3 linked regions of the Homo sapiens genome follow. The protein of the gene in region 1 interacts with the protein of each later gene in a pairwise test. Each region holds a gene or a part of one and is shown in the gene's direction. Other genes may lie near its edges. The genes, in order: ZMIZ2, RANBP3 and SOCS6.

What was found.
Region 2: the proteins of ZMIZ2 (region 1) and RANBP3 interact in a two-hybrid assay, tested with the Homo sapiens proteins (one large-scale study listed by BioGRID).
Region 3: the proteins of ZMIZ2 (region 1) and SOCS6 interact in a two-hybrid assay, tested with the Homo sapiens proteins (one large-scale study listed by BioGRID and IntAct).

What each region holds. Positions count from the first base shown.
Region 1 is NC_000007.14:44,758,731-44,762,381, forward strand, and holds part of ZMIZ2 (zinc finger MIZ domain-containing protein 2), read left to right. Parts: intron 1-550; coding exon 551-730; intron 731-833; exon of another isoform or gene 834-845; coding exon of another isoform or gene 846-1,016; intron 1,017-1,420; coding exon 1,421-1,498; intron 1,499-1,694; coding exon 1,695-1,863; intron 1,864-2,691; coding exon of another isoform or gene 2,692-2,718; coding exon 2,719-2,863; intron 2,864-2,964; coding exon 2,965-3,175; intron 3,176-3,651. UniProt on the Homo sapiens protein: Increases ligand-dependent transcriptional activity of AR and other nuclear hormone receptors.
Region 2 is NC_000019.10:5,929,634-5,933,284, reverse strand, and holds part of RANBP3 (ran-binding protein 3), read left to right. Parts: intron 1-740; coding exon 741-833; intron 834-1,753; coding exon 1,754-1,881; intron 1,882-3,651. UniProt on the Homo sapiens protein: Acts as a cofactor for XPO1/CRM1-mediated nuclear export, perhaps as export complex scaffolding protein. Bound to XPO1/CRM1, stabilizes the XPO1/CRM1-cargo interaction. In the absence of Ran-bound GTP prevents binding of XPO1/CRM1 to the nuclear pore complex.
Region 3 is NC_000018.10:70,293,076-70,295,652, forward strand, and holds part of SOCS6 (suppressor of cytokine signaling 6), read left to right. Parts: exon of another isoform or gene 1-1,972; intron 1,973-2,003; exon of another isoform or gene 2,004-2,577. UniProt on the Homo sapiens protein: SOCS family proteins form part of a classical negative feedback system that regulates cytokine signal transduction.

The sequences.
Region 1 (3,651 bases):
TGAAACCCCATCTCTAATAAAAATACAAAAAGCATTAGCCGGGTGTGGTGGCGGGCGCCTGCAGTCCCAGCTACTTGGGAGGCTGAGGCAGGAGAATTGCTTGAACCCAGCAGGCAGAGGTTGCAGTGAGCTGAGATCATGCCACTGCACTCCAGCCTGGGTGACAGAATAAGACTCCATCTCAAAAAAAAAAAAAAAAAAATTAGCCGGGCGTGGTGGTGTGCACCTGTAATTCCAGCTACTTGGGAGGCTGAGGCAGGAGAATTGCTTGAACCCAGGAGGTGGAGGCTGCAGTGAGCCAAGATTGCACCACTGCACTTCAGCCTGGGCAACAGAGTGAGACTGTCTCAAATTAAAAAAAAAAAAAAAAAAAAAAACAGGCTTCTGCATGTGAGAACTGCCTGTGCCTGACAGTGTCACAGCAGGATCTTCAAGGGAACCAGGAAATCTCCATTCCCCGAACCCTGCCACACATGAGACTCTACTTCCTTCTGGAACCAGCTCCCCTGATGCCTTTTTTCTCCCCTCGGGCATTTTGCCTCTTTTTCAGGTGTATCCAGGGCAGCAGTATCTGCAAGGAGGCCAGTATGCACCCAGCACCGCCCAGTTTGCGCCCAGCCCTGGGCAGCCCCCTGCCCCCTCCCCTTCCTACCCTGGGCACAGGCTGCCCCTGCAGCAGGGCATGACCCAGTCCCTGTCCGTGCCTGGCCCCACGGGACTGCATTATAAGGTAGGGCAGGCTCCTCCAGGCCCTGTGCCGGGCTCCGTGCTGAGTGCTGTGGGACAGGGGACCTTGGGGCAGTCCTGTCCTCGAGAGCGACAGGGTGGCTAAAGGGGCCAGCAGGATGTGTAGGTCCATGTGTGCTCATGGACCACAGCTCTACAGGAGATGGGGGGTGGGGGGTGGGGGCATTCTGACCAGTGCAGGAGCAGCTCCTGGGGTTTGGGATCCAGTTCCGAAAGGACCCTCTACAAGATTCATATATCTCAGGGGTATCCTGTGCAGGGAGCAGCAGGTGGGTACCCAAAACATTTGAATGTTCTTTATGGAAAAGTGTCATTCCTTCTACTTGCTGCAGAGAAATCCATTGAGAGGACAGGCCCTCGCTGCTGGCCATGTACCCTTTCTGGGTGCATGGGCAGAGCCTACCTCCCTGGGAGCCTGGGTGCGCCGGGTGGTGCAGCTTGGGGGAGGAGAGGAGGAGGGCTTAGCGTGCTTTTGTCTTTTCAGCCCCTCCAACCTGTTTGATCATTTTCCTCTGTGGCTATGATTGCTTTAAGTAGTGTTACTTGTAGATTATTTGGAAAATACAAGAGAGTGTAAAGAAGACCGTGTATGGTGGGCTTCTAGGGTCAGGTCCAGGGGGCCCGGCAGGGGTCAGGTTGGAGCCCCAGGTGCATGCAGTTTTCTCTCCCGCAGCCCACAGAGCAGTTCAACGGGCAGGGCGCCAGCTTCAACGGGGGCAGCGTCAGCTACAGCCAACCTGGCCTGAGTGGGGTAGGGGGCCTGGCCGGGAGGATGGGCCGGGAGGCTCACAGGGTGGGCATATGGAGAGAGGGCGACCGGGCAGGCACCCCTGGGGCCGCCTCCTGTCCACCTCTGTTATCATGGTTCCCAGTGGGTGCGCCGTGAACAGACTCCACTCCCATCCACCCTGGCAATCTGCCTTGACTGTTTGTGCTCAACCCTACAGCCTACCCGTTCCATCCCGGGCTATCCCAGTTCCCCACTGCCAGGGAACCCCACGCCACCCATGACCCCAAGCAGCAGCGTCCCTTACATGTCACCAAACCAAGAGGTCAAGTCTCCCTTCTTGCCTGATCTCAAGCCCAACCTCAACTCCTTGCACTCATCGCCCTCTGGTAAGTCTGTCCACTCTTGGGACAGCGGGGTGACAAGGCCAGGGTGGGCATGGGGGAATCACAGGACTCCAGAGAGTCCTGTAGGAGCTTGGGGGACAGGGGATGGCTGCCATATCCCTAAGAAAAGGGCTGGGTGTGGTGGCTCACACTTGTAATCCCAGCACCTTCGGAGGCTGAGCACAAGAGTTCAAGGTTACCGTGAGTGTGATCTTGCCACTGCACTTCAACCTGGGTCCCAAAGCAAGACCCTGTCTTAAAAAAAAAAAAAAAAAAGGCCAAGGATTCCATCTTCTTAAAGACAAGTCGCTTAGTGCCAAGCCTTCACCTTTTTGTTCTGTTTGTGGCTTTCTTTGCAAAGGAGGCTGTGGCTCTTCTCTCCCCTGTGCACAAAATGTTGTATATAATTTCAGGGGATTTATGAACCCCGGAAGCCCATTCCAGGGAGACCACAGCAGCAGAAGTTGGGATCGTAGAACTCTAAACAGAGCTATAGGGCAATTGCAGGAGGCTCTCACACACCTTGGCCTCCCAGTCTCTCTGAAAGCACTGGAAACACCTTTTGTCTGGGCTGGGGACATGTTCCCCTATTATGGTTTAGGGGACACTGGGCTGGACTGCTGAGGCAGGAGGCAAGACAGAACATCACGACCGAATGCCCAGGCCTCAGGAGAGATGCTGCCCATGGCCCCAGCCCCAGGGCACCACTCAGGCCTGCCAAGCAGTGCCTGACAGGAGGGGCTCCCTTCACCAAGGTCCCTGCGGGGAAGGTGGCTGGGGAGCCGCTGCCCTCCTTGAGTGACACAAGACGCTCTGGCTGGGGCAACCCAGCTCACAGCCAGTGGCCTCTGCTCCCAGGAAGCGGGCCTTGTGACGAGTTGCGGCTGACCTTCCCTGTGCGCGATGGGGTGGTCCTGGAGCCCTTCCGCCTGCAGCACAACCTGGCTGTAAGCAACCATGTCTTCCAGCTGCGAGACTCAGTCTACAAGACCCTGATAATGAGGTGAGCTCCGCCTGGCCCCCACCTGACCCCCACGAGGCTCTGTTCCTCCTCCCACACTCTCAGGGCCCGTTTTCTGGGTGTCCACCCATCTTCCTGAGCAGGCCTGACCTGGAGCTGCAATTCAAGTGCTACCACCACGAGGACCGGCAGATGAACACCAACTGGCCAGCCTCGGTGCAGGTCAGCGTCAATGCCACGCCGCTCACCATCGAGCGTGGCGACAACAAGACCTCGCACAAGCCACTCTACCTGAAGCATGTGTGCCAGCCAGGCCGCAACACCATCCAGATCACCGTCACCGCCTGCTGCTGCGTGCGTGTCCTGCGCCGAGGGGGCGGTGCTGTGGCGTGGGGCGGGGTGTGGTGGGGCCTGGCCCAGCGGTGCCGTGGGGTGGGGCGGGGTGTGGGCGGGGCCTGGCCCAGCGGCGCAGTGGGAGCGGAGCCAGGACATGGGCGGGCCGGCCTGCAGCACCATCAGATCATGCCGCCGTCTGCTGTTTTGCTGTCCACCGCCTGCTGTAGCATGTGTGCCCCCTTGCAGGGTGGAGAGCAGGACGTGGGGGCTTTATTATTTCAGAAAAATGCGTTGCTTCTCTTTGTTACTGCCTTGTATTTCTATTTTAATCTGTCATCCTTGCCCTTTAAGAAAGCGATCCAGTAATATACCCTAGCTGTTTTCCAGTTAGAGTAAATTGACTAGATTTGATGCTCACATTAATTATGTAAGAGAAACCAGGATATGCAGAAAGCTCATGGAGCTCGGAGTCCCCGGCTGATCAAGCATTACCG
Region 2 (3,651 bases), on another chromosome or scaffold:
CCTGGAAAGTTCCTTTAAAGAGAGGCTGTCTGAGCAGGGAGGTTGGGACCCCTGACTGTGAGCGTCGTGTGTTCAGAAAAGTGGGCAGTGGTGGCACGGGAGCAGGCTAGGCGGGGTGCATCGGGCGGGCTCCATGCCCAGCAGTAGCGCACTTGGTTCAGCCTGTCTGTCCTTCATGTTCTGGCCCCCACATACCACAGTGTTCGCCCCAGTTAGCAGGGTGGCTGCATTCCAGCGGCGCGCTGCTAGTGAGCCGGCTGCTAGTGAGGCTGCCGGGGATGCTGCACAGGGCAGGGCACATGCAAGGGTCCTTGTCCCATCTGCCTTTGGCAGAGGGACTTCCTCAGCATGGCTGTTTTGAAAAACAGGTGCAAAATGTGCCTGTACGTGACCCCACACCGAGTCCTGAGCCTCCAGGTAGCTGCCTGTGAATGCACTGCTCTCCTCCCACAGTCTCCACTTGACTGTTGAGTCTGCCGGCGCCCCGCCACGTTACTGTGCTAACTGGATTAATTCACAGGCGTCGGTCACTGGGAGTTTCATGTAATCACATGTAAAAATAACAGTAGCCAGATCTCCTGGCCAGCTGTTAAAAAAAGACCTCAAGTTTTTAAAAAAGTGCTTCCCTGCAAAGTCTAGCCTGCAAGGGGCATGAAATGGGATGCCAGGGGTCAGTCTCTGAAGCGCCTGGGGGCAGGCAGGGGTCCACGGGCACTGGGAAGGCCGCCTTCTGTTCCTAGGTCTGCCAAGCCAGAAGCCCAAGGAGCAGCAGCGGAGCGTGCTTCGCCCGGCAGTGTTACAAGCTCCGCAGCCAAAGGCGCTGTCCCAGACTGGTAAGAAACAGCAGCCCTGGCGCCCAGGCCCAGACGGCAGGGTAGAGCGTTCCCGAAGTCGCACCCGGGACAGCAGTGTTGCGACAGAGGTGACTGCTGAATGCACCAGAAATACAGAGAGATCAGGGAAGATGATCCTTTAAATCACCCCCCAGCCGTCTCCAGCCCCAAGCCTCCTGAGCCCTGGCAACGGAGAAGGGAGAGGCGGCTCCACAGCTTCCTCACAGCTCTCGGCTGAGTGTGACTGTGTGGGTGAAACCTGCTTTGTTCATTCACTGTCTTCATAAAAGCAGGCCGGCTCCTGGGAATGAGATTTATCCCTGTGTGTTTGCAGATAGAATTTCAGCCTCAATTTTCACAGGTTATCTTTAAAAACTTGAAAGGTCATTTTATTTATTTATTTATTTATTTATTTTGGAGATGGGGTCTTGCTCTGTCACCCAGACTGGAGTGCACTGGTGCAATCATAGCTCACTGCAGCCTCGAACTCCTGGGCTCAAGCGATCCTCCCACCTCAGCCTCCCAAGTAGCTGGGACCACAAGTGTGCACCACCACACCCAGCCAGTTTGTTTTATCTTATTTTAGAAACGAGGACTTGCTGTGTTGCCCAGGCTGGTCTCAAACTCCTGGCCCCAAGCATTCTCCCCGCTTCAGCCTCCCAAAGCACTGGGACCACAGACATGAGCCACTGTGCCCGGCAGGTTTCTCTTTTTTGTTTGTTTCTCTTGTTTTTTTTTAAATCCAAGAATTTTGGCTCTTTGTAGAGATACCAGGTCCTTCCTTAAAAAGGAGACATGTGCTGTGGGCTTTACCATGGGAGGGGCCCTAGACTAGACGTGGCCCAGCCCCTCAGCTATGTGAGTGGGGGTGGGAGGGCCGCCAAGCACCTGTGATTCCCCACTCTCCTTCCCTCCCACAGTCCCCAGCAGTGGCACCAACGGGGTCAGCCTCCCAGCAGACTGCACGGGGGCAGTGCCCGCAGCATCCCCTGACACTGCTGCATGGAGAAGTCCTTCCGAAGCTGCCGATGAGGTGTGTGCACTTGAGGTCAGTGGGTCCTGAGGCAGGGAAGCGCTGCATGCTAGGCCCCTTGGGAGCGGGAGGGCAGCCTTCCCAGCATGCTGTGGAGTCCACACGCTGTCACCTGTTCCAAGCAGTTTCCACGTGGGCCTATTGTAAGGCTCTCTGGATTTGCTCAGTAGGCTCTAAATAACAGTACCTGACAAACCAGATCTAGATTCCCAAGGGTGGTCTTGCTGGTCAGGCAGAAGAAGAGTGTCTCCCAAGCAAGCTCTGCCGGAAGGACCTGTTGCCCAGAGTTCTGCCGGAAGGGCCTGTTACCCAAGGCTGACCGCCACATGTCTCACGGGAGTGATCCTTGAGGGAGGACCTGAACCACTGCACTCTGAGGAGTCACTAGGGCCCGAGGAACGGCTGTCACTGATGGGTGTCTTGCAATGTTTAACATGAGGAATGTCTCCCCTCTCTGTGTCCACACCCAAACCACCCCTCAGAGACTCCTATCTGTGTGGTTCCAGTTGAAAATTTTTCTTTGGGAGTCATCTCAGAAATAGTTTGTTTAGGCCGGACACGGTAGCTCACACCTGCAATCTCAGCACTTTGGGAGGCCGCGGCAGGTGGATTGCTTGAGGCCAGGAGTTCAAAACCACCCTGGGCAACATAGCAAGACTCTGTCTCTACAAAAAATACACAGATTAGCCAGGCATGGTAGCATGTACCTGTAGTCCCAGCTACTCAGGATGCTGAGGCTGGAGGATTGCTTGAGCCCGGGAAGGGGAGGCTGCTGTGAGCCGAGGTCACACCACTGCATTCCAGCCTGGACGACAGAGCCAGACCCTGCCTTAAAAAAAGAAATAGTTCCATTTAAGCGGGGGTATGGTTTGGATTATATGGGCCAAAAGCTTTGTGTTTCACAGCCACTGTGAAATAAGGGCCTTTGATGAAGAGCCTCCTTTGAAGTTGGCAGAGATGGGTTTGAAGTCAGAATTAGGGTAACACCATGTGGTATCTTCTGTGTAAAAGCCAGATTGGATCTTTGTGTTTATTTTCCGCTCTGTGTCCATGGCCTGCAGTTTTATACCCTCCATCCCCAGTAGATGTTCTGGCTCAAAGGGTGAAAATGGCTGTCCACAATTAAATTTGAAAACATCCTCACGCCCTTTTTCAAACGAGTTTGCTGAATTGGAAATAGGGATCATTTCCACCGCATTCTGCGGCTTGGAAGCTTTGACTGCTGAGGTCTCCTGAGCAGATCAGGTGTGCAGTTCTGAGTTGGAGAAGGACTTAGAAGTGACCCAGCCCGTCCCGCCATCTCCCAGTGTCTCTGATTGTCCCCGATGGTGAGTGCACAGGCTGACCTGGTAGCACCCGCTACCGAGAGCTTGTTCCTCACTGGAGAGGCCTTGCTGTGTCCCATCCCAGGGGACGGAGTCCGTCTTCCTGCCGGTTCCAGCCCCTTCTCAGCAGTGCACACAGCTTGTTCCCAAATGGTTGAGCTCAGAAGTTGTGATGTGCTGGCTGCCATTCCCAGCTCCTGCGTCTGGCTCCAAAGCCACTGCTCCATGTGGGTCTGGGGTGGAGCCATGCGGCCACACCCACGCTGCCCTCTGACCACACCCAGTACTGTTGAGATTCGCCAGGCTCGCTGTGTGTATCCTTCTCTGGCCCTACAGCAGGAGTCCGAGCTTTTCCAAGCCGCCCATGAACATGGCACACACTGCTCATCGGGAACGTGAGCTATGAGGCATCTCCTCTAAGGAGGGCTTAGATGTTGGGGGCGACCCATGGGGGAACTCC
Region 3 (2,577 bases), on another chromosome or scaffold:
GAGTGTCTACTGTGGTCCTTCTTTTCTGTGTCCCTGACACATCCCAGGGGGCCTGGCCACTGAGTAGGAGGGGTGTGGGTATACAGAAAGTAGTTGCGGTTTTCATGTTGTTATCTACACCTTAAAGGCAGAGATGTGCTGTGTACATGTTAGAAAGTTGTTGGTATTTCATGTCGTTTGTCCTTTTCTGAGCTGGTCTGCTTGCCTGGCTGAGTAAATCATAGCACTAATAAAACCAAAGTCCTTATCATTACATGGCCCCAACAGCCCCACAGAGAGACAACTGTCACTGCCTGTAGAGCTATGATGTGTGTCTGAGTGACTCAAGTACCAGACTGACTGGCAGTGTAGACGCCCAGATCTCTTTCACTTCTGGAAGTATAGTCATGTATAGTGTATAGAAAGTCACCATCCCAAAACCCATTTCTCCTGCTTACATAGCTTAGTGAAGTGAAACCTCAGTTATCTGAAATCTCCTGGTATCCTCAGTTTTCTGGTGTAGAATTAAGCCAGAAGGAAAATCTCCTTTGGAATTAGAAAAGCCAGAGACTTAGAAGCCCTCCATGCTAACTAAGGAAGACAGTCTCTCATGGGGATGCAGATCTAGGTTTGAATTTCAGCACTTCAATTTTATAGGGTAGATTAAAACAAAAAAAAAAACTTAAGGTTTTGTTCCTTTACGTATATAATAATGATGATGTTTCTCTCAGAGCTGGTGTGATAATGGAATGAGATAGCCGGGCGCGGTGGCTCGCGCCTGTAATCCCACCACTTTGCGGGGCTGAGGCGGGTGGAGCAGGAGGTCAGGAGTTCGAGACCAGCCTGGCCAACATAGTGAAACCCCGTCTCTACTAAAAATACAAAAATTAGCTGGGCATGGTGGCACACACCTGTAGTCCCAGCTACTCGGGAGGCTGAGACAGGAGAATTGCTTGAACCTGGGAGGTGGAGGTTGTGGTGAGCCGAGATTGTGCCACTGCACTCCAGCCTGGGCAACAGAGCGAGACTCCGTTTAAAAAAAAAAAAAAAGAAAGAAAATGGAATGAGATAATGCATGTTAGTGTATTAAGTGCCTGAAATATAACAAGTGCTAATACTTTAACACTAGTATTCTACTCCTTTATCTGACTGCTTTTGACTAGTTAGATTATGTTTTAAAGTAATAGTAATAATTCCTATTTAAAGTAATTATTACTATTAATTCTTTTCTGTGTCCCTGACACATCCCAGGGGGCCTGGCCACTGAGTAGGAGTCCGTTTTTCTTGTCAGTTTTTTTTGTTGTTGTTCTTTGGAGGGGAGTTCCCTCAATTTTTCTTTTATTGGATGTTTACTTTTTGGCTGTGGGAGTTTTGTTTTCTAACTGTTCTCCTCACCCCCTCTTTTATAATATATAATAATGGTAATAATTCCTATTTAAAGTAATTATTACTATTAATTTAAAACATAATCTGACTAGTCAAAAGTAGTATTCTGATTAATCAGCCACACCTGTGTTAGACTTGAATGTTTTTGTTAAGGAAGCCTAATGTGGGAAAAGTGTTTGAGACCAAAAGAGCAAGAGAAATGGAAATGAAAGCAGTAAGTGAATGGGCGCCTTCAGAAGGATTGCTAGTGCAAGCTGCTAGACTGGTAAGGATTACAGGTGGTCACAGTGTTAGCAGCAATTGCCTGACCTGGCTGTGGGGTCATTGCAGTTCATTGGTGGGAGACCGAGAACAAAAAAGATGCCGCACTTGCCTTCTCTGCAGAGCCTTCTGCTCTGATTATGTTTGTTCTGATACTGTTTTATCACTCCTAACAGCGAACACACTAAAATACTTTCTAAAATTGTTAAAAGGGCATCACACTTGGAGACTGGGGAGTGATGATTATCTTATTTTCCATAGCATCGGACTCTTGAGTATAGAGAAGAAAAGAAAGAAGACAGGATATATCTGAAGGCCTGGAAGGCAGGCAGTAATCTGAACATCAGTAAGTCCTAATGGTGTCATTATGCCATCCTGAAATTTTCCAGCAGATAAATTTGGTCATCTGGAGAGGCATCCATTTATATACAGCAGTTTGTGACAGTCTGAGATTATACTTAATATACACACTTGTGCTTAAAATACCTTTTTGAAGACAGGAATGTATGGCTCCTATTAGATAAGATTTCCATCAAAAACAATTTCAATAGTTCAGTGTTAATCTTTAGACAAGGTATTTTTACCCAGCGCTCTGGGTAGCTGATTATTTGGTGCTGTTTATGGTGGCACTTACAGTGATTTTTGTGGTACACATTGTTCTGACCATATCAATAATATGCTAGATGGTTGAAGCAGCTGGGTTAGCATGCTTTGAAAGTCAGATGAATTCTTACTGGTAGATTTTTACTGTATCTGTATGTTACTTGTTTAAAGTTTGTTGTGATGTGTATAATAATGGTGTTTGTTTTTAAAGCTTAATTTTGGTTTTCAGTAATGTATTACCATCCCTCAGACAATAGTCATTTTTGTTTGTTGACATTGCTTTTAAAGTTAAAAAAGAAAAGTGACATATTTAGGAAATAACATTATTGCCAAATATCACAGACTGGC